Linked DNA regions of Homo sapiens. The protein of the gene in region 7 purifies or fractionates together with the protein of the main gene of each other region. This does not show direct contact. Each region holds a gene or a part of one and is shown on either strand. Other genes may lie near its edges.

Region 1 (3,500 bases), on a different chromosome or scaffold from region 7:
CAGCTGGGAGGGAGGCCCAGCCTGGGGCTCCGTGCTCAGCAGCTGCTGCCCTGGAATTCCTGGTCACTTCACCTTTGACCCATATTTTGTAAGTGGGGTCCAAGGGCACAAGGGCTTGGTGCTGGGGGCTCCTAGCCTGGGCTTGGGGGTCTCTGCACCCACCCGTGGGTGAAATGCCAAACACAAAACACCCTGGCCGACCCAGAGACCTCCAGGAAAGGAAGATGCTTTTTTCCTGCCTTTTAGCATAAGGGTCCACAAATTCCATAGCCAGAGGGGCCGGGGGCAGCAGAGGAGGGGTAAGGGGTGAGGGGCCAGAGCTCAGGGTCTGGTCGCTCTTCTAAGAGGGAGGCGGGAAGGAACTCCGCACCGTGGCGACCTGGGACAGGGCCCACACTGCTCTGCATCCCAACTTCCTCTCCGAGAAGAGGGAGGGGCCGACACCTACCAGGGAGATGTGAAACAACCAGCCTGGGTGACAGCACTGTGCCCCTGTGAGCAACGGGCAGCCGCGGTACCAGTCCTTGGCGTCATCACCGGCTCTGCCACCCGCGGAAATGGCTGAGCCTCAGCTGCCTCCTCTGCAAAGCAGGGACGGGAAGGGCAGGTGCCTTGCTGAGCTGTGTGGGGACTGAGTGGAGGCTTCTGAGGACTCACCAGGGTTAAGACGGGTGTTCATTCAATGCTCCCCAGTTCTCTTCTTCTCCCGTCCCTCCAGGCATGCTCTCAGCCCCTGCTGAAGCCTGTGTCCTAATCCATCAGGCCCTACCCCCAGGACCTCATGGCGGGGGCATGGGACCCTCACCCGCAGAGGTGAACGATGGGAGAGGCGGGGGCACCAGGAGCTGCGGGGGCCTGAGGCAGCTCCTGACCCAGCTCTCAGGGTCCAGGCCAGCTCCCTAGGAGAAGGCCCCCCACTTGCTCTCAAGAAAACCCTGGGCTATTCAAGGAATCTACCAGAAAGCTGGGAATTGCACATCTTCTGAAACGAGGGTCCCGGCCTCCCTTACCAGCCTCCGTTTCTCAGTCGGGGTCTCAGGCTCTCCCAGCCTCTGCAGGTGCTTACTCACCTGGCTCTGACCTCCGCTGCAGAGAGGAAGCACCTGGAGCACGGGCAGGGGTGCGTTCCCCTCGCCCCAGCCCTTGAGAGATCCAATTAGCACAAATGATTGTTATTATTGTTGTTATTAAGTCCCGCCCACCCCTCTGGAGGCCTGCCTGCCAATTATCCCCTTTCTTCTGCTGCCAATCTCACCTCCTCCTCCCCCCGCACTCTCGGAAGCAACTCCTCCTGGCCCTCCGTGGCCCTCCCTGCCCAGAAACTTCTCTGGCACCCACCTGCTTTCTTCCTCCCCCCAGTCTCTTATTCCTTCCCCTCTACTTGCAGCCTGGAGCAGCCACCTCCCTTCCTTCCCCCCAAGTCATCCTCCAACCACTGGGCTAACACCCTCTCTGACTTTTCACCAAATCCTGTGGCTCCTTCTCAGCCTGACTCCACAACCTCTTTGGAGCCACCATGCACCCCATGTGGCCCTGCCTTTGTGGGGCGGGGGAGGAGCTCTGGGGTGCCCAGACCAGCCGTTCCCCCCACCCCACCCCCTCCAGCACGGAGGGCTCTGGCCCTTTCCTCCCTCCCACCCTCACTCTCTTCTCCCCATTCCCCTTCCCTTGGGGCTTTCGCTCCCTCCCACCACGATCCTGGCTCCCACCCTGCCTCTTGGAAGTGCCCTCCTCACACCACACACCAACTCATCTTCCTGAAGTCACTCAGTTCAAACAACCCAATTAGAACCCGGGCAAAGGATCCGAGAAAGCATTCCTCCAAAGAAAGACAAATATCTGATAGGCACATGCAAGGATGTCCTCATGAGCCGTCTGGGAGAGGCAGACCAAACCCACAGGGAGGCAGCACCTCACACCCACTGCCAGCCTCAGAAAACAAGTGCTGGTGAGGACCAGGAGAAGTGGGGAGACCCCCATTGCTGGTGCGGGCGCCATAGGAAACACCTGGCAGTTAGTTCCTCAAAAGGTTAAGCCCAGAACTCCCATAAGAACCCGCAATTCCACTCCTTAGTATAGACCCGAGAGAAAACATGCGTCCGTCCACGCAAAAATCTGCACACGAATGTTCACAGAAGCATCAGGCATAACAGCCGAAATGTAGAGACAACCCAAATGTCCATATGGATGAACTAACTGTGGTCCATCCATGACCGTAATGGAACACGACCATAACCAGGTGTGAAGTTCAGCTGTGACAGGGATGACCCTCGAACACGGCACGCTTGGTAAAACAAGCCCGATGCAGAACAGCACGATTCTATTTATGCGCCTGCCCACAAGAGGCACACCCCGGGAAAGAAAGCAGATCAGCACTTCCCAGGAACCGGGACGCAGGGAGGCAGGGAGGCAGGGAGGGAGGGACTGCTGAAGATGCACGGCGTTTCTTTTGGGATGAAGAACAGGTTCTAAAATCGACTGTGGTGATGGCTGCGTAAATCAGTGAATACACTAAAAACCTTACTGAACTGTATATTATTTATTTATTTATTGAAACAGAGTCTCGCTTTCTCGCCCAGGCTGGAGGGCAATCGCACCATCTCGGCTCACTGCAACCTTCGCCTCCCGGGTTCAAGGGATTCTCCTGCCTCTGCCTCCCGAGTAGCTGGGACTACAAGCGCTGAACTGTGTACTTTAAAAGGGCAAATTGTACACTATGGGAATCATATCATAATAAAACTGTTCTCAACAAAAAGCAACTCAGTTCATCACCTCCTTGCCCAAACTGCTGCCACTGCACGTGCCGGCTGCCCCTCAATCCAAAATCCAAGTTCCTCCCCAGGCACCACAGGGTTCCATCTGGCTCCGGCACCTCTGCAAACCCCCTCCCTTCCAGCTGGCCCGGATCTCGCTGTGCAGTGCACTGCTCCTGATGCACCGACAGGCTCAGTCCTGGCCAGGCCCGGTCTTTCACCCTTAAGGACCGGCCCCACTCCTCCACTTGCCCCGGCCAGGCCTGGTCTTTCTCTCTGAGGGGCCGGGCTCAGTCCTCCACTTGCCCCGGCCAGGCCTGGTCTCTCTCTCTGAGGGGCCGGGCTCAGTCCTCCACCTGCCCTGGCCAGGCCTGGTCTCTCTGAGGGGCCGGGCTCAGTCCTCCACTTGCCCCGGCCAGGCCTGGTCTTTCTCTCTGAGGGGCCGGGCTCATTCCTCCACCTGCCCCGGCCAGGCCTGGTCTCTCTCTCTGAGGGGCCGGGCTCAGTCCTCCACCTGCCTGGCTCAGTCTCACCTTTCAAGGGTCTACTCAAATGTCAGCTTCTCCCTGAGGCCCACACCCCACCTTTCCCATGGCAGGGCTGACTTCCTGGCTGGTCAGCACCTTCTGTCACCATGTCACGAGCGTGGTGATATCACTTCTATTGGTATTTCCTTCCTGGGACTCTGCATCTGCTCCTGGGCACAATGCTCCCTGAGGGCAGGTGCCAGGGGTGTCCAGCACCTGC
Region 2 (3,500 bases), on a different chromosome or scaffold from region 7:
AATCCTAGCATTTTGGGAGGCCGAGGCGGGTGGATCACCTGAGGTCAGGAGTTCGAGACCAGCCTGGCCAATATGGTGAAACCCCATCTCTACTAAAAATACAAAAAAAAAAAAAAAAAGAAAGAAAGAAAGAAAAAAAAGAAAAAAAATTTGGGCAGGGCACGGTGGCTCACGCCTGTAATCCCAGCACTTTGGGTGGATCACCTGAGGTCAGGAGTTGGAGACCAGCCTGCCCGACATGGCAAAATTCCATCACTACTAAAAATACAAAAAAATTAGCCAGGCGTGGTGGCAGGCACCTGTAATCCCAGCTACTCGGCAGGCTGAGGCAGAAGAATCGCTTGAACGTGGGAGGAAGAGGCTGCAATGAGCCGAGATGGCGCGACTGCACTCCAGCCTGGGCAACAGGAGTGAAACTCTGCCTCAGAAAAAAAAAAAAAAAAAAAATTAGTTGGGCGTGGTGGCTTATGCCTGTAATCCCAGTTACTTGGGAGGCTGAGGCAGGAGAATCACTGAACCTGGGAGACAGAGGTTGCTGTGAGCCGAGGTTGCACCACTGCATTCCAGCCTGGGCGACAAAACGAGACTCTGTCTCAAAAAAAAAAAAAAGGAAAAGAAAGAAAAAAGATAATGAATAAACAAAGGGGTTTAAAGGCAAAGATATAAAGATCCCAGGAGACAACCACAATTTCTCAATTTATGCACTATGGTGAACGGAGCCAACTGACCTCTGCTTTCTTACGGCAGCAAAAATTCCAAAGACTTTTGTCTGGACTCTAGGGCACTGCTAATGTCAAACGACTTAGCAAAGTAAGAGTGGAAAAGGAAAAAAGGAATATCATTCAAGATACATGAAGGCTTAATATCACCAGCCTTAGGGGTCAAGTCTCAGAGCCATATGACACTTGAGACCTCAGGAGATGCTTCTAGTTCTTCTAATAATTATACCGTCTTCGATGGGGCTAAAGACTAATCTATAATAAATTATATGCCAAAGCTTACCATTTTACTCTCCCTTTTAAAATGACATCTGTGGTCTTAGAGAGCAAGATTAAAAATCTTTCCAAGGTTGAGGTACACATGAGATGTATGTCTTACACAAATAATTCAAATTCTCAGATAAAAGATATAACTCAAAAACAGTCAGGCTCCAGTTAGAAGGCTCTAATCATCCAGTAGAGACATGACTGTGGCTGTACTATATTAGCTCCAGTGTGGATGCAAAGTGGATGGTGAGAAATATTTAGTAGGTAGACCAGCATCTACTGGATAGAGGGGAAACAGCAATATTTCTGAAAAGCTATGTTTTTCCCAATTAAATCATGTTTTTAAAACTCAGTGGGAAAGACCAATCTTTAAAGAAACCCTATAACATATCCCTTATAAGTTTTAAAAATATTTTATAATACAAATAAGATGTTCCATTTTTCAAAAATTTGCTGCAAATTTTCATATTAGATCAATCATATTTTCTTAAAAGTTGTGATTGTTGGGAATTTAATCTGTCCTTTGGTATTATTTATTTGAGTAGATGTTTCCTGTCTGTCACTTCTCACTAGCATCTAGGCTCCCTGCTGCATCCCATACATAAACAGTGCCTTGTGCCCAGTAGGTGTTCATTTACGTTGAATAAGTAAATAAATTAGACTTAATGAAAACACAAACTTGCATTTTATGTTCTTTTGCACATAGCTGTCTTTCACTTAACATTTATCTTTTTCTTTTGGCAGCATCTAAGCCTAGTGGATATCCTGGAGTTGGAGTAAAAAATATACATATTTTATAAGACTAAGTTTCTATTTTACTATCCTGACTAGTAAATAAGTAAAAGGCCAAGGGAACTGATAATGAGAAATAAGCAGTGCATGAAATCACACTTTGGAAAAATATTCTTCTTGCATAAACACATATTGAGGACCTACTATACCATGCTAAATCATAACTACATATTGCAAACTCCTAACAAACTGTTGTCAAGACATGCCTATGCCTCACTGCCATTTAACAAATATTTTTAGCATCTACCATATCCACTGTGTTAAGCACTAGGAATACTTCTATAAACAAGACAGATGATTTGTCTGTCCCAGATTCTGATGGAGGAAAAAAAAGAGAAGAAAAACCATATAGAAATTACAATAAGGAAGTAAACGGCAAACCAGCAAATAGTAACAGGTAAGTACCCTAGAATAAGGTGGTCAGAGAGGCCTCTCTAAAGATGTGAAACTTAGAGCCTCTGTGATGGAAAGGAGCCAGCCCTGGGCAACATCAGAACAGCTAGTTCAAAGGCTAGGAGGTGGGAATGAGTGTCACAGAGCAGAAAGATGGCAGTGTGGCTTGAATATAGTGAGAAAGGGGTGGTGGGTGGTACAAGTTGAGGTCATAGAGGTAAGCAGAAACCAGATCACAAAGAGCTTTTCAGGCCATGGGAAGTTTAGATTTCATTCCAAGTGCAATGGGAAGCCATTAAGGATTTTAAAAAAGAAGGCAACATGATCTGATTTGCATTTTAACAAAATCATTCTTGCAGTTTTGTGAAGAATGGATTAAAACGAACCAAGATGAGTACTGGGCGTGGTGGCTCATGCCTGTAATCCCAGCACTTTGGGAGGCTGAGGCAGGCCGGTCACTTGAGGTCAGGAGTTCCAGACCTGGCAAACATGGTGAAACCCTGTCTCTACTAAAAATAAAAAAATCAGCCAGATGTGGTGGCTCACGCCTGTAATCCCAGCACTTTGGGAGGCCAAGGCGGGTGGATCACCAGGTCAGGAGTTCGAGACCAGCCTGGCCAACATAGTGAAACCCAGTTTCTACTAAAAAATACAAAAATTAGCTGGGCATGGTGGCATGCGCCTGTAGTCCCAGCTACTCGGGAGGCTAAGGCAGGAGAATCGCTTGAACCAGGGAGGTGGAGGTTGTGGTGAGCCGAGATCACGCTACTGCACTCCAGCCTGGGCAACAGTGCGAGACTCCATCCCCCAAAAAATAAATAAATAAAATAAATTTAAAAATAAATAGAAAAATCAAAAATTAGCCAGGCATGGTGGTGCATGCCTGTAGTCCCAGCTACTTGGGATGCTGAGGCACAAGAAGAATCACTTGAATCTGGGAGATGGAGGTTGCAGTAAGCCGAGATTGTGCCACTGCATTCCAGCCTGGGCGAGACAGAGCAAGACTCCAGAGGGGGAAAAAGAGGAAGAGCAGCTGGGAGGCTATCACAGTAATATAGGCAAGAAATGGTGGTGACTTTGACTAAAAGGCTAGGAGTGGAGGTAGAAAAAACATCAATTCCAGATGCATTTTAAAGATGGGAGAACTGATTGGATGTGAAGGACAGGGAAGAATCAGGGATGGACCCTAGGTTTCTGGCCTGCACAATTAGATGTATGGAGGTTCCATTTACTGACATGGATGGTACAAATTACTGAGATTTAGTCCTCATATACTATGTGCTCATTTCAATTACCAAATTCAGTGAATTCTTATCACATTTTATCTCT
Region 3 (3,500 bases), on a different chromosome or scaffold from region 7:
GCTGGGGCCACAGGAGTGGGGATCTTGCTATGTTGCCCAGGCTGGTCTTGAACTCCTGGGCTCAAGTGATCCTCCCACCTTCCAAAGTACCGGGATTACAGGCGGGAGCCACTGCCCCGGCCACTTCCTTGTTTTATTTGTCTTCCTGTTGACTGTCTGCTACTCCCTCTAAAGCACAGGCTTCCTCAGGTGGGGACCTCCCTGCTTTGTTCCCTGCTGTTCCTCCAACAGATGAATTTCCAGCGCAAATTCATCCCGGAGCGTGAATTCACGCAGAGCCCCTGCACACACTGCAGGGCGAGGGAAGTCCAGCTCCATCCACCAGTCCGCAGGGGCAGCACCTCGACCTGCCTCAGTAGAGCTACGCTCCCAACACCACCACCCCACTCAGGGTCAGTCCTGGTGAAGGGGCATGCGGGCACCCCACGTCGCCTTTGTCTGTCCTTGAAAGAATGCCAGGCCGTGTGCTCAGGGAAGGCCGAGCAGATGAGGGAGAATTTCAGTTACACAGGCCTCCCTCAGCAGCTGAACAGGCGCCAGGAGTACCGGCAAGGACTCGGCAGATGGACGGTATTCATGGCAACACAAAAGATATGGTAGTCCATATTATCAAATCAAATACAAAACACGTAAAAGGCTTAGCTTCAGGGCACTGGCCTCATTCAACGGGTACCCTCCCCTTCTCCTGCTCTGCCCACCTGTCTAGCTCTGAACCTCTAAAGCAGAATGCAAATGGCCTGCTTTCATTGGGCCTCTGGGGTTAGAGCCAGCTGAGAGGCACAGGGTGTGGCAGGGGCGGGGGTGCCCAACCCAGCACAGCCAGGGGGTTCCAAAGGGAGGCAGAAATGAGACCGCAGGCCTATTCTCACTTCTGCTCAAGAGCCTGGCTATTTTAGGACTCCAGTCTTAAAAATACTTGGGAAATAATTAAGCTTCTATATATAGTAGATTAACATTTATTTCAAATGTGCTTGTCAAATAACTCTAATACTGAATCTAACAAGGTTAACTCTTTACTGCTTGTCACGTTCTAATGAAAAAGTCTACAGAAGTCTAATGTATAGTCCAGTATCAAATCGTTCTAGAAAATGATTACAGTAAAGATAAAACAATCTCCCAAGTTGAAAGGCAACTAGGGAGCTGTGTTTAAGGGACAGAGGTCCACTGCAGCCTCTCCTTCCTGAGTCAGGGCCATGCTGGGGTCTCGAACTCCGCATACCAGTCCCTGGAGAAGACCCTCTCTGGGTGGAGCCCCCTCTTGGCTGAGCAAAGGTCTTCTTAGCTAAGCTCCAAGTTCAAGGCACAAGTTTGGAATAACAGGCCTGGGTAGAAATGAAACCCACCTAGCGACCAGGAGAGCCTAACACAAATCACCTAGAAGTTGCCAAGGGCTGGTCTGAGAAAACCCGGGCACACGCTACGGTCGCCTCATCTGGGGACTGAGGGCAGGGCTGGGTCCCATGGACTCTTGATCCCCAGCATTTAACTCAATTCTGGTAAACCAAAACTACACGTTCTTCAGCCTCGAAGGGTGCTCCGAGGTGACAGCAATTCCAATGCTGTTTATCTGTTGGTAGGGAATGACAGTCCCTCAGCCCGTCCTCTGTCAGGGAAGCCCAAGCAGTGCTTATGACCTGGGTCACCCCATGGCACGACGACCGGCATGACACAGCGGAGACGGCTCCCTGGACGTGGCTGTAAGGCCCTCTTAGCAAACCATCCCGTCTTACTTCAACAACAAGTAAGTGGCCTGGGTCTCTCGGTGTAGTCTCAGACGCACCAACCACAGCCACTGGGGAGGCCAGCGGGGAGCCCGGCTGCTCCGATGCACCATCCTTTCTGTAAAATACTCATGTGGTCGCCACAGCGGGGCTACATTAAGCCATTTCTGGGCCCGTAAGGAGACAGGAGGCCTCCACTGCCCAACTCTTCCTCCTTCCACCCTCTCCATCCTCCCGAGTCCAGTGAGCACCTGGCAGCTCTCACGGGCCGTCAGCCCCGCCAAATGCCCGCTGACACCTGCATGTCCCCCTCCCTCTGGCCCTTATTGTTTCTTTTTCCAGTAAACGGACAATGAGCCTGTGGGGAACACCAAGTTCTAATTCATCTCCAAGAAGCCTGCAGCCTAGTCGAGTAGACAAGAAACCAGACCAAGTGGGACAGAGGAGCTGGCAGCAATCACAGAATGCCCTACCCTTCCTTCAAGAGATGTCGGATGTGTCCAGCTCCCAACCCCCACCTGTCCTCTACAAAGACACAGGAATGAACTGCCATGGCTCCAGGTCACCCACACCTGGACACCCATCCCGGCCTGTCACTCAGCTGCGTGACCGTGACTATCCCACGCAACCTCACGTGCTATCACCTGCAACATGAGCGCCCCCGCACTCCTGAGGACAGGTGTGGGAGGACTCGGCCTGTTCCACGCAACCTCATGTGCTATCATCTACAACATAAGCGTTCCCGCCCTCCTGAGGGCAGGTCTAGGAGGACTCAGCCTGTTGTGGGTGGTGGCCTGCCCTGTTTTCTCAGGCTGACCAAGTGAAGGAGATGGGAGGGAACAGGCACCAGGGCCACAGAGGGCGCACGGGGACACAGGCCCTGCCTTTAGGGTGCACCCTCTTGTCCACTCAAGACTGCAGAGGCATTTCGGAGATCTCACCGGTCAGACGGGCCAAAGTGTAGCCCCAGGCCCTGGTGCCTCATCTTCCATCACAAACCCAGCAACCATCACTGCCAGGCAGATCTTCAGGAACCCAACAAGGTTTTGTTCTGCAAAGTACTTAGAAGTGACAGGCTTAAGCCAAATCTCCACAAACACTAGAATGACACTTGGTCACACCAAACAGTACAACTTTTGTTTCTTAAGCCACCTTCTTATAAGAAAAAACATTTATTTTCCCAGCCTTGAAAAAGCCAGTCAAGAGCTAAAGTTCAATCCAAATTTCTGAGGAAAACAAAGGTGCCCTGGCCTGTCCTGCTCCTTCCAGCTGGAGGCTCCTGGGAAGCAGAGCCCACACCTAACCATCCTCTCCAGCAGCCACAGGCATGAAGAACGCAGGGCGTGGCGGGCGCTGGCCAGGGGGACCAGTGGGAGAAGGCGGCTGGACACTCTAGGTAGAAGTGGGGGCCCAAGCCATGGCCTGTGTGCCCCCAGGGGATCAGCAGGATGACCTAAGTCACAGGTGATTGATCAGGGCCACAGGTGACTGATCTGAGTCAGGTCAACAGGGACATAAGAAAACATGAGAATGTTGACAACGGGAATGCCTGCATGCAGCCAGACCCCTGCACTGCCACGGGCAATGGGCGCCCTATCCCTGTGGGACAGCTCCACGCAGGGATGACAGACAGGGAGCCAGGCGCCAAGCAGACAGTTCTGAGCTGGCAGGTCTGGGCTGGGGCTGTGGAGAAGCAGGCATTTCTAACAAGGCCCTAAGTGGCCCTACTTTGAGAGTCCCAGCCTTAGAACAGCTCCGGGGACTCCTCAGTGCCAAGGG
Region 4 (3,500 bases), on a different chromosome or scaffold from region 7:
TTGTAACATTTTGTGCTCACCCACATAGTAGAGTAATCACATTCTCAAAGTATTTGTTTTTCTCTCTCCCTGGAATAAGATCTTCTTGGAGCCATCGAGAGACTATGTCTATCTTTATATCCCTAGGCTTTTGCATTTGCTATGGTGAAATTTGTCCCTAAAAGCTGATATGTTGGAAACTTAATCCCCAATGCAACAGTGTTGAGAGGTGAGACCTTTAGTAGGTGATTAGGTCATGAGGGCTCTGCTCTCATGAATGGATTACTGTCCTTATCATGAGAATGGGTTTATTATCATGAAAGCTTATTGTAAAAGCAAGTTCAGCCCCCTGTTGCTCCTCTCTCCCTCTCTCCCTCTCCCTCTCACTCGTGCTCTTTTGCCCTTCCACCTTCTGCCATGGGATGGGCCCTCGCCAAATGTGAACTCCTTGATCTTGGACTTCCCAGACTTCATAACTGTAAGAAATAAATCTCTGTTCTTTAAAAATTAACCAGTCTCAGGTATTCTGTTATAGCAGCACAAAATGAATGAAGACAGTATCTGGGCACATAATTAGAAACTGATAAATGTCTGTTGAATGAATGAATGAATGAATGAATAAAAGGTTGAACAAATATTCTCTCTCCTTTGCCTTCTCATGACAACTTAGAATCCATTTCCTCTCAACATGAATTATTTCATTTTATTATTTCAGTGCTCTGCCAATGGATTTATGACCCAAACTACCAACAACTCTAGCCAAGGTTTTTGTGGTACTATGGGATCAGGAATGAAAAATGGAGGGCAGGAAACCATTGAAATGATGAAAGGAGGAAACCAGACCTTGGAATCCTGCCGGGGGGCTGGGCATCATCATACCCTGGACTCCTGCAGGGGAGGACACACGGAGGTGGACAACTGCAGATACACTTACTCGGAGTGGCACAGTTTTACTCAACCCCGTCTCGGTGAAGTGAGTTTCCTTAGGTGTTTTGAGTCTAAAATTTAAACCTCCGAATGGAGAAAAATAGACAATTCAAATTAACATATATTTTCTGTATTTTTCTGTGGGCTCTCTCTTGCTTGCTCTGTTCATTTTCCCGTGCTCTTTGATTTTGTTACATTATTTAATTTAAAAGAGATTTTATTTCATTTTTCATATTTCATTTAATTTATAAAATCCCATAAATATAGGATGTTTTTAATATTCTTCACTAACGTCTCATTTTTAGTTGTGTATTTACCTCATGAACCCTTTTGATATAGAAGATCGTGAAAGTAATTCTAGTTCCTCACAATTACAAACTTTTCAAATGAAATCTGTATTTCTCTGTGAAAACACCAACATTTGTATGCAGTTTTAGGATAAAGATTAAATAGCATGATTTATATATATTTTTATCTTATTGCAAATTGACAAAATTTAATTGTATATGTTTATGGGGCACAAAGTGATATTATGATTTATGTCTGCAATGTAGAATGATTAAATCACACTTAACATATGCATCACCTCAAATACTTATTTTTTGTGGTGAGAACATTTGAAATGTACTTTCTTTGCAATTTTGAAATATAACATATACTATTATTAACTATAGTCACCATTGCAGGACATATTTTAAATATACAAAGCACCATGCGAATGTAAAGTGCTTTTATTTTAAGGAAAGCAAGAATATGAAAGAAAGAAGGAATTAAAATAAGGAATTCTCTGTTCATACCAAAATCACCTATGAAGCAGAAGCTTTTTTCTTTCTTTTCTTTTTTTTTTTTTTTTTTTTTTTTTTTTAAGGCAGGGTCTTGCTCTGTCGCTGAGGCTGGAGTTCAGTGGTGCAATCTCCACTCACTGCAGCCTTGACCTCCTGGGCTCAGGTGATCCTTCTATGTCAGCCTCCTGAGTAGCTTGGACTACAGGTATACACCACCACACCTGGATAAATTTTGTATTTTTTGTGGAGAAGGTGTTTTGCCATGTTGCCCAGGTTGGTCTCCAATTCCCAGGCTCAAGTGATCCACCCACCTTGGCCTCCCAAAGTGCCGGGATTATACGCATGAGCCACTTGGCTTGGCAAAATCCTCTATGAAGCTTTTAAAACATAACTAATGGCTGTGTTCTACTCTAAAAGATTCTAATTTAATGAATTTGGGGTTTTTTGTTTGTTTTGTTTTTGTTTTACATTTCCGAGATGATTCAAATGTGCAGCTAGGTAGAAAGCCACTGGATTAGACACTCTTCTGGACTAAATTTTTACCTCTTTTATCAGAGGATACCAGTGCCATTGCAGGACAAACAGTAGACCTTTAATCCTTGAATGGAATGCAAATGGGTGATACTCTGGTATAGGGCTGTAGGTTATGTATCCATAGCATTTTGGAGGGTCAAATTCAAGTGTTAATTCTTTTTCTACTTCTAGACAGTCAGTATTTATGTAATATCAGGTTGAGATGGAGTGAAGCTTAAGACATAGTCTTAGGAGGGTTCCTCAGTTGCACACCAGGTAATGGGAGGTAAGGCTAACAATGTCATGAAGAAAGAACGTAAGCCATGCCAATGAACTCCACATAGGCAAGGAGTGGGCACACAGGTGAGGAAAGGGAGGAGACATGGCAGTTGACGAGTTGGCAGACAGGCCAGTGGCAGAGAGGGTAGATGTGGCTGAATGCATGGCGTCTTCATTATAAAAGCCCAGTTTTTGCAATATGGGTCATGTTCATTCTTTTTAATTTCATTGAACTTTTCGATGCATGTATATATTTTGCCATGTTTGAGTATCTTGGAAACTTGCTTCTGAAGTTAATGTGGTAAATCCTACCTAGTTTATAACTGCATATAATAGTGATTCAAGTTAACATGTATTGTACCTTTAATATGTGCTGGGCATAATAAGTGTATTATGCGTCATTATTTTGTCATTAATTTCTAAAATAATCTTGTTAGGTGGTCACTGAGACTAAAGGATATTTGGTCACTTGCCCAAAGTCATATAGCTAGTTGGTAAAGCCAGAGCTTTGACTCACAACCAAGGCTGTTTGACATCCTATCTCAAACTCCTAACCAGTATGACTATTGTCTCTATTTTTTAGACTAGACTGACCTCTGTGTATAAAATTTAGGGATAAGCATTTAATGACAACTTGAATGTACTTAAATATAAAACTTGTATACATAATTTTTTATTTATATGGAGCACTAGAAATGTAAACTATACTGACTTTATGGTATGGTTGTGATATAGACCAATCATTTGCATTTTCTGTGTGTAGGAATCCATTAGAGGACACACTGGTTAAAAATTAAACATAAAAGGTAAATAAAAATAAATTTTATGTTCATATATTTAAGTTGTTTAAAACTATAATGCAATTCATTTTTTAAAAAATTTTACAGAAATTGCATCGATGTAATCAGAATGAAGACCGCATGCCATCCCAAGATTATGTCCTCACTTATAACTATGAGGGAAGAGGATCTCCAGCTGGTTCTGTGGGCTGCTGCAGTGAAAAGCAGGAAGAAGATG
Region 5 (3,500 bases), on a different chromosome or scaffold from region 7:
GTAACATGACTGAAAATTATTAGTGTAAGGTGAGGTTAGTATAAGGTGATAGGAAGTTGTCTGTGAAATTCTTGAGAGCTCTTTGAATTTATAACCAAAAGAACTGAATTTGTCTGTTCATTTTACAATCTGTTACAAGGCATTTGGATTGAAAGGATGGAAAGATGGCCGTAGGAAACAAGTAGCTTACTATGTAGGAGGTAGGTACACAAATAACTAATTATTATACAATCCATTTAATAAGCCCTGTACAAAAGGTATCTATATCTATCTATCTATCTATATATATATATCTATATCTATATATATATATATATCTATATATATATATATATATCTATATATAGATATATATATATCTATATATATATATATATATACTGTCACATGACTCAGGGAGGGACATCTCATTGTATATTGATAGGAATGGTACCAGGGAAAGTTTCAGAGATTTTGCCAATAGATGGGGGTGGAGAGTGGGAGGAAGGGTGGAGGGGGCAGTATTGATAGAGCATCCATTTCACATTCTGTATTACCACAAAGTTGTTGGATGGTATTGAGCAAGTCACTTAATGTTTCCGATTCTAAGTTTTTTTAATCAGTAAAATGGGGTTGTTAATACTTACCTAACAGGATTGTTTTAAAGATTAAAGAAGAAAGGATTATTCAAGTAATATCTGTTAAATGTTTTCAGTTGTAAAGCTTTTTACAGTGTATTATTTCTTTGAAAATCAGCTTATTCCATTTTTAGACAGCTATAGTAGTTAAAAGTTCTTTAGTACATTATGCTGATGTCTGTCTTAGAAATGTAAAAATCCTACTTTTCTTATTGCAGACATTCAAATGTCACTGTCCTTACATATACGTAAATCATATGTACCTATTCAGGCTATAGTTTTTTAAAAATAGTAGTTTAAAAGGGGATTAGGGATTTGTCTCATATGAAGTGTAATGAATAGAATGAATATGGTAGGAAAGACGGTTTAGATAAGGATTAAGAAGTAAAAGGCAAATAGTTTCTTTTTTTCTCTGTAAATCATTATTATAGTTTAGTAATTCTATTTAGTACATTGGTAAATGGTAGTACAAAAAAACAGGTTAAGTCTAGACCTTAGACTCTGAGACAGAATCTTAAAAGATTTGTAATCTGAAGTAAGTATGATGCTTCAGTGTCTTCGTATTTTTTCTTTCTAATGCTTTTTTGGGGGTTAACTCTGAAATGAAAAGATCTGACAGTAATTATGTGGAATTGGTCAATAGTGCCAGGAACTGATCTGTATATACCCCTGGGACACAGTAAGGGTCAGTTGAGACTAGTAAACTTATGCATATTTAAAACTTGTGAACAAGTGAAGTGTTTTTTGTTTTGTGTTTTTTTTTGGTGGGGGCAGCATTTCTTAAGCAATTTATTCTAAAAGATAATCTATTTCTATTAAATTTAGTTTTTAAAATGTGTTTTGACATCAGTTTCCAATTTTAGATACAGCTGTTGGACATGATATTCAGTAAAATAACACAACCTTACTATTTTCAAGGCATTGTTTAATATTGTTGGAATTTGAGGTGGGTGGAAAATGGCATTCAGAAAATTATTTCATGAAATAAATGGGACATATGCTAGGACTTAAAAATCTTGAAATTGTTAAGCTTCTACAGTATTTGCAATGGATTTTGGCTGCTATTTAGCAGTATAAATTAAGAAGCTAAGATCTTAGAGAAATTTTAGCAAAAATTCAGTAACCATTAAATCATCCCCGTAATTTTACTATATCTCCCCTCCAGACAGTTCACCAAACTGTGAACACATTAGTCTGTCACCAGTACAGTTGACTAATCTTTATGAACAGCTGTTATAACATGCGTTACTACAATGGGATTTCATTCAAATTTGGGCTTTAAAAAATAATTTTAAAACTTAAGTTAGCTCTTTCTTTCTTTTCTTTCTTATGTGTCTGTCTGTCTTTATTTTGATGGAGTCTCTGTCATCCAGGCCGGAGTGCAGTGGCGTGATCTCAGTTCACTGTAACCTCTGCCTCCCGGGTTCAAGCAATTCTCCTGCCTCAGCCTCCCGAGTAGCTGGGATTACAGGTGCTCACCACCACGCCTGGCTAATTTTTGTGTTTTTAGTAGAGACGAGTTTCACCATGTTGGCCAGGCTGGTCTCAAACTCCTGACCTTAGGTGATCTGCCCACTTAGGCCTCCCAAAGTGCTGGGATTATAGGTGTGAAGCCACCGCGCCTGGCCCCTTTAAGCATTTTCTATGCTTTTGATGACATATACTTTCTAAGAGTGTTTTCAAGCTTAAACTTTTTTTTTTTTTGTAGAAATGCCAGTTATGTAGAAAATCGATATTCACATTTTAGATTGTATGTTTTATTAATAGTTTTTTTGAAGTTAGTTTGTTTATACTAAGAACTTTCAAGTTTAACAAAAATCAGTCTTGCATGGTAACACATCTCTTGGTCTGTACTTATTTTCTCTCTTAAGGCAAACTGCAAAGCTATGTTCCTTTTAATGGAATATTATGAGGTAATGAAGTATTATAAAATATTTTATATTGTATAAAAGGAATTTTGATCTTTTAAATTTAGTATACAATATTTTTGGTCATGTAGGAGAAAAAAGAATACAAGCACTTTTAAGTAGACTCTATTTTAATCTATTAGTCTCATGTCATTTATTTTTTGTAAGTAAATAAACAATACCAAAATGTATTCTTTTATGTATCTTTACTCATATATTCCATGTCCACCCTTTTCATGACTGTGTTATGGCATGATAGAATGAAATGGCCTTATTAACCTGGCAGGATGGTGGATATTGATCAAAGGGTTATCGTGATATTTTAAAGGCTTGTTTTTTAGAATAAGGTAAATATACCATAGCATACTGTTTGATTTCAGTATGTAAGATAATCCTGAACATCAAGATTTTGACATGTATTTGTTTTTGCATGGCATACATATAGATGATGCTATAAAGACTGAGTTGAAGATTTCTGTTTGATTCTATAAGTCCCAACATGATCTGGTCCTTGCTTCACTCTCCAGATTCCCTTACCGCAAGTCATTTCCCCATTCATTTCACTGCAGCTGCTTTGGTCTTTTATTCATTTCTGAGAAGATACTTTCAGGCTTTTCATGTGCCTGAACTGCCCCATCTCCAGTCTGCTTAATATTAAACTCATCCTTTAGGTCTCAGCCTGGGTGGAGATCACTTAGGTTAAATAATCAATCTTAACATTATTTTTCCAGCATAATGTTGGCTTCTGGAATGCTCTTATGTAATATATAAACCGTTACCTTTATAAAATCTGAAAAATTCTTAAACAGATGATAAATAAGCAAAAACAAAAACAGAAACAAAAACAAAACAAAAAATAAACCCAAAAAAACCACCCCAAACTAATAAAGTTTAACTTCAACAAAAGGATATTGGCTTGAGGGAGGTTGTGTTAATCTATCTTTTGAATTCATTTTGACTGTTGTAAAGATAATTA
Region 6 (3,500 bases), about 78 Mb from region 7:
GTGGATGGTCTTGAACAGGTACTTTTTATCAATAACTGAAAACTGTAGGGATCTTACTTGGTGTTTTTATGTAATTGTTGGAAGGATCATTCAGAAAGCAAATGGGTTAATGAACTTTTAAAATGCTGTAGGTGAGGCATGACAGTTTACACACTGTGTTTATCAGTGCTCTTGATGAAATTACACAAGTTAGGAAATGGAAAATGTCCACTTGGTTCATTTGTATCTGTCTGCTTAAACGCTTTCTAGGGATATGTTGTTTGTCCTTCTGAAAAGAGATTCCTTCTGCTCTTTACATTCCTTAAGAAGAACCGAAAGAAGAAGCTTATGGTCTTCTTTTCATCTTGTATGTCTGTGAAATACCACTATGAGTTGCTGAACTACATTGATTTGCCCGTCTTGGCCATTCATGTAAGTGATGATGATGAGCTCATTGAAAACAGGGTATGCTTATTAAATCCTATAGATTGTAGGATTGGAGGTATTGCCCTCTCCTGGAAACATTGTTCTGAGTAGTTTGATCACCACTAGATGATGGATCCTGTGTGGGGGAGCGCTGCTGGGTGTGGAGGGGTATGAGGACTTTCGAAGAGTGCAAGACACCATCCTCCTTGAGGGGCTTGCGGAACAGTTGGGGAAATAGGACATAGGCCAAGGGATGAGCTCGAAATAGGGTAACAGTTCCACAATTTGGGGGTTCTACTGCTAGTCTTCCTCAAGATTCCAGCTCTAATGGATGTTTTTATTTAATTCTAGGGAAAGCAAAAGCAAAATAAGCGTACAACCACATTCTTCCAGTTCTGCAATGCAGATTCGGGAACACTATTGTGTACGGATGTGGCAGCGAGAGGACTAGACATTCCTGAAGTCGACTGGATTGTTCAGTATGACCCTCCGGATGACCCTAAGGTAACTGGCATCTTTGGAATATCTTCAGAATGACTCTGCATTAAAAGTTCACTTATTCTCCCAGTTCCCTGACGGAAACTGCATTCCACATTCAAGGTAAAGATCCCTACTATACAGTGACTGCAGTATTTCTCTGGTATTGAAAAGTACTTAAGGCTTTTCAGGGCTCAAACGGGCTGTGCCAGAGGATTGAAAAGGATCAGTGGGACTTAAGTTATGAAAATGAGATCCTTGGAATGATCTCTTAAGAACAGCAGATGCCTGAAGGAAATAAAATTGCTTAAGGAAGTAGATAAACTTCTGTAGTATATGTGGTAGAATAAGCTTCATTGAGAAGTATTTTCAACAAACACTGGATTAAAGCCGTTTTGATGATGAAGCACACATAATACTCATTTTATTAGATCGCTGTTAATGCAAACATCATGTCCAGCCTTTTTTTTTTTTTTTTTTTTTTTTTTTTGGGCCTCAATCATTGGCCTATTGGGGGTGATGTGCACAGAGCGATTGCTGGCCCAGCTTTGTGGGGGTGTGGTGAAGGTGTGTGTGGCCCAGCACCGTGGGACTACACCATCTCAGTACAGACATGCACATACTCAGGATGCAGATACGCAAATGGGCTCATGTGGAAGTCACTGCGTTAACTCAGATTTTCTTTCTCCACCAAAGGAATATATTCATCGTGTGGGTAGAACAGCCAGAGGCCTAAATGGGAGAGGGCATGCCTTGCTCATTTTGCGCCCAGAAGAATTGGGTTTTCTTCGCTACTTGAAACAATCCAAGGTAAAGATCTGTACTTGGAGAAAGATTTCTCTTGGTGTAGGGATTGTTAGCAAGCAACATTTCTACATGTGTCAGAGGAGTCTCGAGTCTGGCCAGTGCTGTTACAACCATTCTTATGGCAATTAAGCAAGTAAGGTTTTATGTACTTCTAGCCCAAGAAGTGAGCACAGAAGGAACTGCCCACATGGCTCGGCTTTCTAGCTCTGTTACCCAGCAACACCTCTGTGTCCCAGCCTCTCCTTTCCTGTTCCCTCCAGCCCTCTTTGAAACCTTCTCCACTCCTTTGAAGCTCCCTCACACCTAGTCATCTCTGCTTCTGCTCCCCTTCTTTCCTCTTACCTCATGTGAAGCAGTGGGGAATCCTTGTTCGCTCTAGCCTCTGCCTCCTCCCCTGCCCTCTGTCTCCTATTCATCAACTCTTGGCCTACAGTCTCTTCCTTGCGGTTGGCGCTTTACCATCTCAAATTTCTCACTGTAAAAAAGTAACTTCAACCTTAAACCTGTTCTTCTACCCCTGCCTGCAGGAGCTACTGTCTGTTGCCTTTCCTCAGTCAGCCTTACTGGAAAAATGGCTTATATTCTTGCCATTTACCTCCCTCTCAGTCCCTAACCAGCCTAATTTGGCTTTAGCTTTCTACTATCACACCAGAATTGAATCCATCAGGACCCTAAGTGGCCTCTTCATTGCTAGGCCATGTGGGGGATGCATATCAGGCCTTCTCCTGCCTGACATTTACATCCTCATTGGCCTTTCTGGCATAGTCTTGATGATAGGCTTCCTCTACCCTGTAACTGCAGGCAGTTCCCTGAAATTGCTCTACAGCTTTTGCACACTTTGTCCAGAATGCTTGGTTTCAGCTCGCCTCTGTCTTTGCTGGGAAGCCATCGCTGATCTCCTGCCTCCTTGTTCCCACAGCACAGGTGCTCATCAGGTTGACATTTCTTTCTTTCTTTCTTTTTTTATTATTATTACACTTTAAGTTCTAGGGTACATGTGCACCATGTGCAGGTTTGTTACATATGTATTCATGTGCCATGTTGGTGTGCTGCACCCATAAACTCGTCATATACGTTAGGTATATATCCTAATGCTATCCCTTCCCCCTCCCCCCACCCCACGACAGGCCCCGGTGTGTGATATTCACCACCCTGTGTCCAAGTGTTCTCATTGTTCATTTCCCACCTGTGAGTGAGAACATGCGGTGTTTGGTTTTCTGTCCTTGCAATAGTTTGCTCAGAATGATGGTTTCCCGTGTCATCCATGTCCCTACAAAGGACATGAACTCATCCTTTTTTATGGCTGCATAGTATTCCATGGTGTGTATGTGCCACATTTTCTTAATCCAGTCTGTCATTGATGGGCATTTGGGTTGGTTCCAAGTCTTTGTTATTGTGAATAAACATACATGTGCATGTGTCTTTATAGCAGCATGATTTATAATCCTTTGGGTATATACCCAGTAATGGGATGGCCGGGTCAAATGGTATTTCTAGGTCTAGATCCTTGAGGAATCGTCACACTGTCTTCCACAATGGATGAACTAGTTTACAGTCCCACCAACAGTGTAAAAGTGTTCCTGTTTCTCCACATCTCCTCCAGCACCTGTTGTTTCCTGACTTTTTAATGATCGCCATTTTAACTGGTGTGAGATGGTATCTCACTGTGATTTTTATTTGGATTTCTCTGATGGCCAGTGATGATGAGCATATTTTCATGTCTGTTGGCTGCCTAAATGTCTTCTTTTGAGAAGTGTGTGTTCATATCTTTCGCCCACTTTTTGATTGGGTTGTTTGATTTTTTCTTGTAA
Region 7 (3,500 bases):
GGGAGGAGGGGGTCTAGAGGGAGTAATTTTTTTTAAAAAAGGCTTTCTATCCAAAGATGAACTCTTTCCGAACTTTTATCTTCATGCTTTCCAGTTTTTCTCCTCACTTTGCCTGCTTTTGATTTCAGTTCCCTCCCGTTGACCTCATCCGGAGCATCTTTTAAATCTCCCCCCAAACCCAATTTCTTCTTTGTGTGTGTATGTTTGTTTTGTTTTGTTTTGCTTATTTTTTAATTTAACTCCAGAAATCATTTTTCTATTAGAATGGCTTCTAAATAATTTTAGGAAATTATTTAAGAATTCTAAAAGACATTCACTTAAGAAATGTTCATTGCACTGCTATTCTGTTTAAATTAGCAAATATCCATGCATTTAATTATTGATAAAGCATATCCTTTGCTATAAATACAGGAACTGATGACTCGGTTGTTTCTGAAGATCGACTTAATGAAACTGAACTGACAGATTTAGAAGGCCAACAAGAATCCCCTCCTAAAAATTACCTTTGTATAGAAGAGGAGAAAATCATAGACCATTCTCACAGTGATGGATTACATACCATTCATGAGCATGATCTCCATGCTGCTGCACATAACCACCACGGCGAGAACAAAACTGTGCTGAGGAAGCATAATCACCAGTGGCACCACAAGCATTCTCATCATTCCCATGGCCCCTGTCATTCTGGATCCGATCTGAAAGAAACAGGAATAGCTAATATAGCCTGGATGGTGATCATGGGGGATGGCATCCACAACTTCAGTGATGGGCTCGCAATTGGTAAGTGGACTGGAAACCACTGTCTATGCTAATCTTATGGACTATAATATGTATGATTAAATTTGGCTGGAGCTTAACAAATATATGGTTATGTATCACTCTGGTCAGTTGATTTTTCCCAAAGGCTACAGTTTTGTGTTCAGTTGTTACATTTGGAGGTGTAAGGGTATAATTTAGTGGGGTTTTTTAGAACACGTAAACAAATGTCTGTAGTATATTTCTTTAATAACTTGATTTCTCAAAGTAGAGTTACCATATTGAAAAAACTGCTTAACATTATATTTTCAAATGTATTTACATATCCCTAAAAGAGAACAGTTTAATTTCAATCCTAGGTTTAATAAATTTGCCATATCTTTGAAAAAGCAAAAAAAAAAATTTACAACATTGAAAATCCATTGTACTAAATTCAAATATATTAGTATCTTGCTAGAGTAAACGGATATTACCAGTTAAAAGGAACATTAAATGTGATCAATACATAATTTTCTTTGAGATCCAGACTCTTTTAGCACCCAGAAGTAGGCTTTGGTTTCTTTCAGAAAGCGGAGACCATGTTTTTGAATTTACAGTAGCTGTTTTTGTTTTTTTTTTTAAATAGAGACAGTCTAGATATGCTTCCCAGGCTGGTCTTGAACTCCAGGCCTCAAGCAACCCTTCTGCCTCAGCCTCCCAAAGTGCTAGGATTACAGGCATGAGCCACCTGCTCAGCCTATAGTAGCTGTTAATACTAAAGAATAAATAATTCTGCTAGTAGACCTAGATGCATTTATAAATCTGACCTCAGTCCTCAATACTACCAGACAAGTAATACTTTGTGCCATTTATTTTCCAGGTCTAGGAAAGTTTTGATAAGGATGTTAGCCATTTAAATCCCTATAAAGATCAATGTGAGAGAGCAAGTACAATCTTAGACTTATAAGACTTAAAGTTGACCATCAAACCACTACTTTGAAGTTCTGAAAATTGTTACTATTCCCGAGATATTAGTGAGTTGGAAGGCTACAAAAATAGAGAATTAAATTGAATATGGAATATTGCTTTTATTGAATAGCTATTTCTCTAGTTGTTACATACTTATTATACTCCACTATATGTTCAAAAACTATAGTGTGTAAGATAAGTGAGTCACTCATATGTTAAGAAATTAATTTAGATAGGCAAAAGAAACTGCATCTGTCATTAATGAAAATGTGAAGAGTTAAGATCAGCAAACCTCACTTGTTTTTTTTCTTATCTTCCTCAGGTGCAGCTTTCAGTGCTGGATTGACAGGAGGAATCAGTACTTCTATAGCCGTCTTCTGTCATGAACTGCCACATGAATTAGGTAATATAACCTTAAAAATTTTACCAGATTTCATCAAATCTAAGACTTCCTTAATTGTAATTGCATTCAAATTTCAGAGATGTTCAAGCATAAAAAATGGCTGATGGCAACTATAGTGTCACTAATTGTAAGATACTTCATGATGTTAAAATATGAAAAAAAAAATGCTCCTTAAGATTGATGAAATGTTCATTTCTGTGTGGTTTCCTTTGCATTCAATAACATAGTTATGCTGTTATAATGAAGATTATAGATTATGACTGGTTCACTAAGTATAACTTTTAAAAAGAAATATTTCTTAAATGCCACATTTTGCTGTTAATCTACTTTTATTTCATATACCATGTAGACTATATTTTTAAAAGAATCAGGGTAAAGTTTGTAATTACATAATTGAAAGTTGTCCTAGATGTACCTAAGGCAGTCTTTCTTCATAAATAATAGAAAGTTAATATTGATGTTCAAAAATGTTACCTGGATGGTTATTAAAGATAGATAGGTTCTTAACTCGGTTACTAACCAGCACTGAGGTTTTAGAGTAATCATTTATTTCCAAAGCTCTTATTTTATGAAGTAAGAAGGTTGGATGATTTCTGTTTTCATTTTATATATTTTAATATTATAATCTTAATACCCAAAAATCTAGTATGTGTTTCTTATGTGATTTTGGTCGAATGGAACTGAATACTCAAAAAATAATCTTTAAAAACCTATATTTTTCTTTTTTCATTTAAAAAAATGTTTTCTTGTTTATTGATACACTTTCAACTATAGTAATCATATATATTATGTTGGACTTCATTCTTTTTTTTTTTCGAATGCATTTCCCATTTGCCCTTAGAAATGAGCGCTAGAAATGAGCTGCACTTTTTTTTTCTAAAAGGGAAATGGGTTACTTCCTCCTCGCTTTGATTCGCTTTCCTGATACAACCCTTGTGTTTCTTACCTTATGTTACTTATTACTGTGTTTTAAAACTCTCCATCCCGATTACGATGAGTTAATTTAATCTGTTGTTTCTGCCCAGTACTCAGAAATGTGCTTTCGCCACATTTTACATATGTAGCACCTGTTATTGGACACAGCACGTGGCCTTTAATTTCTTCCCATCAGAGATAGTGCATTGAACATTTCTAGACTTGATACCTGTCGACTTCTCTGAGATATACACTCAGAAACAGAATTGACAGGTCTAGGGTATGCATGCTAAAGCAGTATGATTTCCAAACAGCAATATCTGAAAGTTCTTGTTGCCACAACCCTCCCAGCACTTGGCATTAACTTTCTTTTTTTTTTTTTTTCTTTGAGACAGAGTCTTCCTCTGCTGCCCAGGCTGGAGTGCAGTGGCATGATCTTGACTCACTTCAGCCTCTGTCCCCTGGGTTCAAGCGATTC

The links.
Region 1: the proteins of SLC39A10 (region 7) and ZNF787 purify together in Homo sapiens (affinity purification with mass spectrometry; one large-scale study listed by BioGRID and IntAct). This does not show direct contact.
Region 2: the proteins of SLC39A10 (region 7) and MPZL1 purify together in Homo sapiens (affinity purification with mass spectrometry; one large-scale study listed by BioGRID and IntAct). This does not show direct contact.
Region 3: the proteins of SLC39A10 (region 7) and QSOX2 purify together in Homo sapiens (affinity purification with mass spectrometry; one large-scale study listed by BioGRID and IntAct). This does not show direct contact.
Region 4: the proteins of SLC39A10 (region 7) and DSC3 purify together in Homo sapiens (affinity purification with mass spectrometry; one large-scale study listed by BioGRID and IntAct). This does not show direct contact.
Region 5: the proteins of SLC39A10 (region 7) and DIPK2A purify together in Homo sapiens (affinity purification with mass spectrometry; one large-scale study listed by BioGRID and IntAct). This does not show direct contact.
Region 6: the proteins of SLC39A10 (region 7) and DDX18 purify together in Homo sapiens (affinity purification with mass spectrometry; one large-scale study listed by BioGRID and IntAct). This does not show direct contact.

Annotation. Positions count from the first base shown.
Region 1 is NC_000019.10:56,111,296-56,114,795, forward strand, and holds part of ZNF787 (zinc finger protein 787), read right to left. Parts: exon of another isoform or gene 3,268-3,500; intron 3,110-3,267; exon of another isoform or gene 2,525-3,109; intron 1,151-2,524; exon of another isoform or gene 1,071-1,150; intron 1-1,070. UniProt on the Homo sapiens protein: May be involved in transcriptional regulation.
Region 2 is NC_000001.11:167,724,982-167,728,481, reverse strand, and holds part of MPZL1 (myelin protein zero-like protein 1 isoform a precursor), read right to left. Parts: intron 1-3,500. UniProt on the Homo sapiens protein: Cell surface receptor, which is involved in signal transduction processes. Recruits PTPN11/SHP-2 to the cell membrane and is a putative substrate of PTPN11/SHP-2.
Region 3 is NC_000009.12:136,239,313-136,242,812, forward strand, and holds part of QSOX2 (sulfhydryl oxidase 2 precursor), read right to left. Parts: intron 1-3,500. UniProt on the Homo sapiens protein: Catalyzes the oxidation of sulfhydryl groups in peptide and protein thiols to disulfides with the reduction of oxygen to hydrogen peroxide. May contribute to disulfide bond formation in a variety of secreted proteins.
Region 4 is NC_000018.10:30,994,243-30,997,742, reverse strand, and holds part of DSC3 (desmocollin-3 isoform Dsc3a preproprotein), read left to right. Parts: intron 1-694; coding exon 695-952; intron 953-3,246; coding exon of another isoform or gene 3,247-3,273; exon of another isoform or gene 3,274-3,289; intron 3,290-3,370; coding exon 3,371-3,500. UniProt on the Homo sapiens protein: A component of desmosome cell-cell junctions which are required for positive regulation of cellular adhesion. Required for cell-cell adhesion in the epidermis, as a result required for the maintenance of the dermal cohesion and the dermal barrier function.
Region 5 is NC_000003.12:143,978,323-143,981,822, forward strand, and holds part of DIPK2A (divergent protein kinase domain 2A isoform a precursor), read left to right. Parts: intron 1-3,500. UniProt on the Homo sapiens protein: May play a role in cardiomyocyte proliferation through paracrine signaling and activation of the PPI3K-AKT-CDK7 signaling cascade.
Region 6 is NC_000002.12:117,824,691-117,828,190, forward strand, and holds part of DDX18 (ATP-dependent RNA helicase DDX18), read left to right. Parts: coding exon 1-18; intron 19-249; coding exon 250-411; intron 412-756; coding exon 757-909; intron 910-1,578; coding exon 1,579-1,692; intron 1,693-3,500. UniProt on the Homo sapiens protein: ATP-dependent RNA helicase that plays a role in the regulation of R-loop homeostasis in both endogenous R-loop-prone regions and at sites of DNA damage.
Region 7 is NC_000002.12:195,716,226-195,719,725, forward strand, and holds part of SLC39A10 (zinc transporter ZIP10 precursor), read left to right. Parts: intron 1-411; coding exon 412-780; intron 781-2,026; coding exon 2,027-2,107; intron 2,108-3,500. UniProt on the Homo sapiens protein: Zinc-influx transporter. When associated with SLC39A6, the heterodimer formed by SLC39A10 and SLC39A6 mediates cellular zinc uptake to trigger cells to undergo epithelial-to-mesenchymal transition (EMT).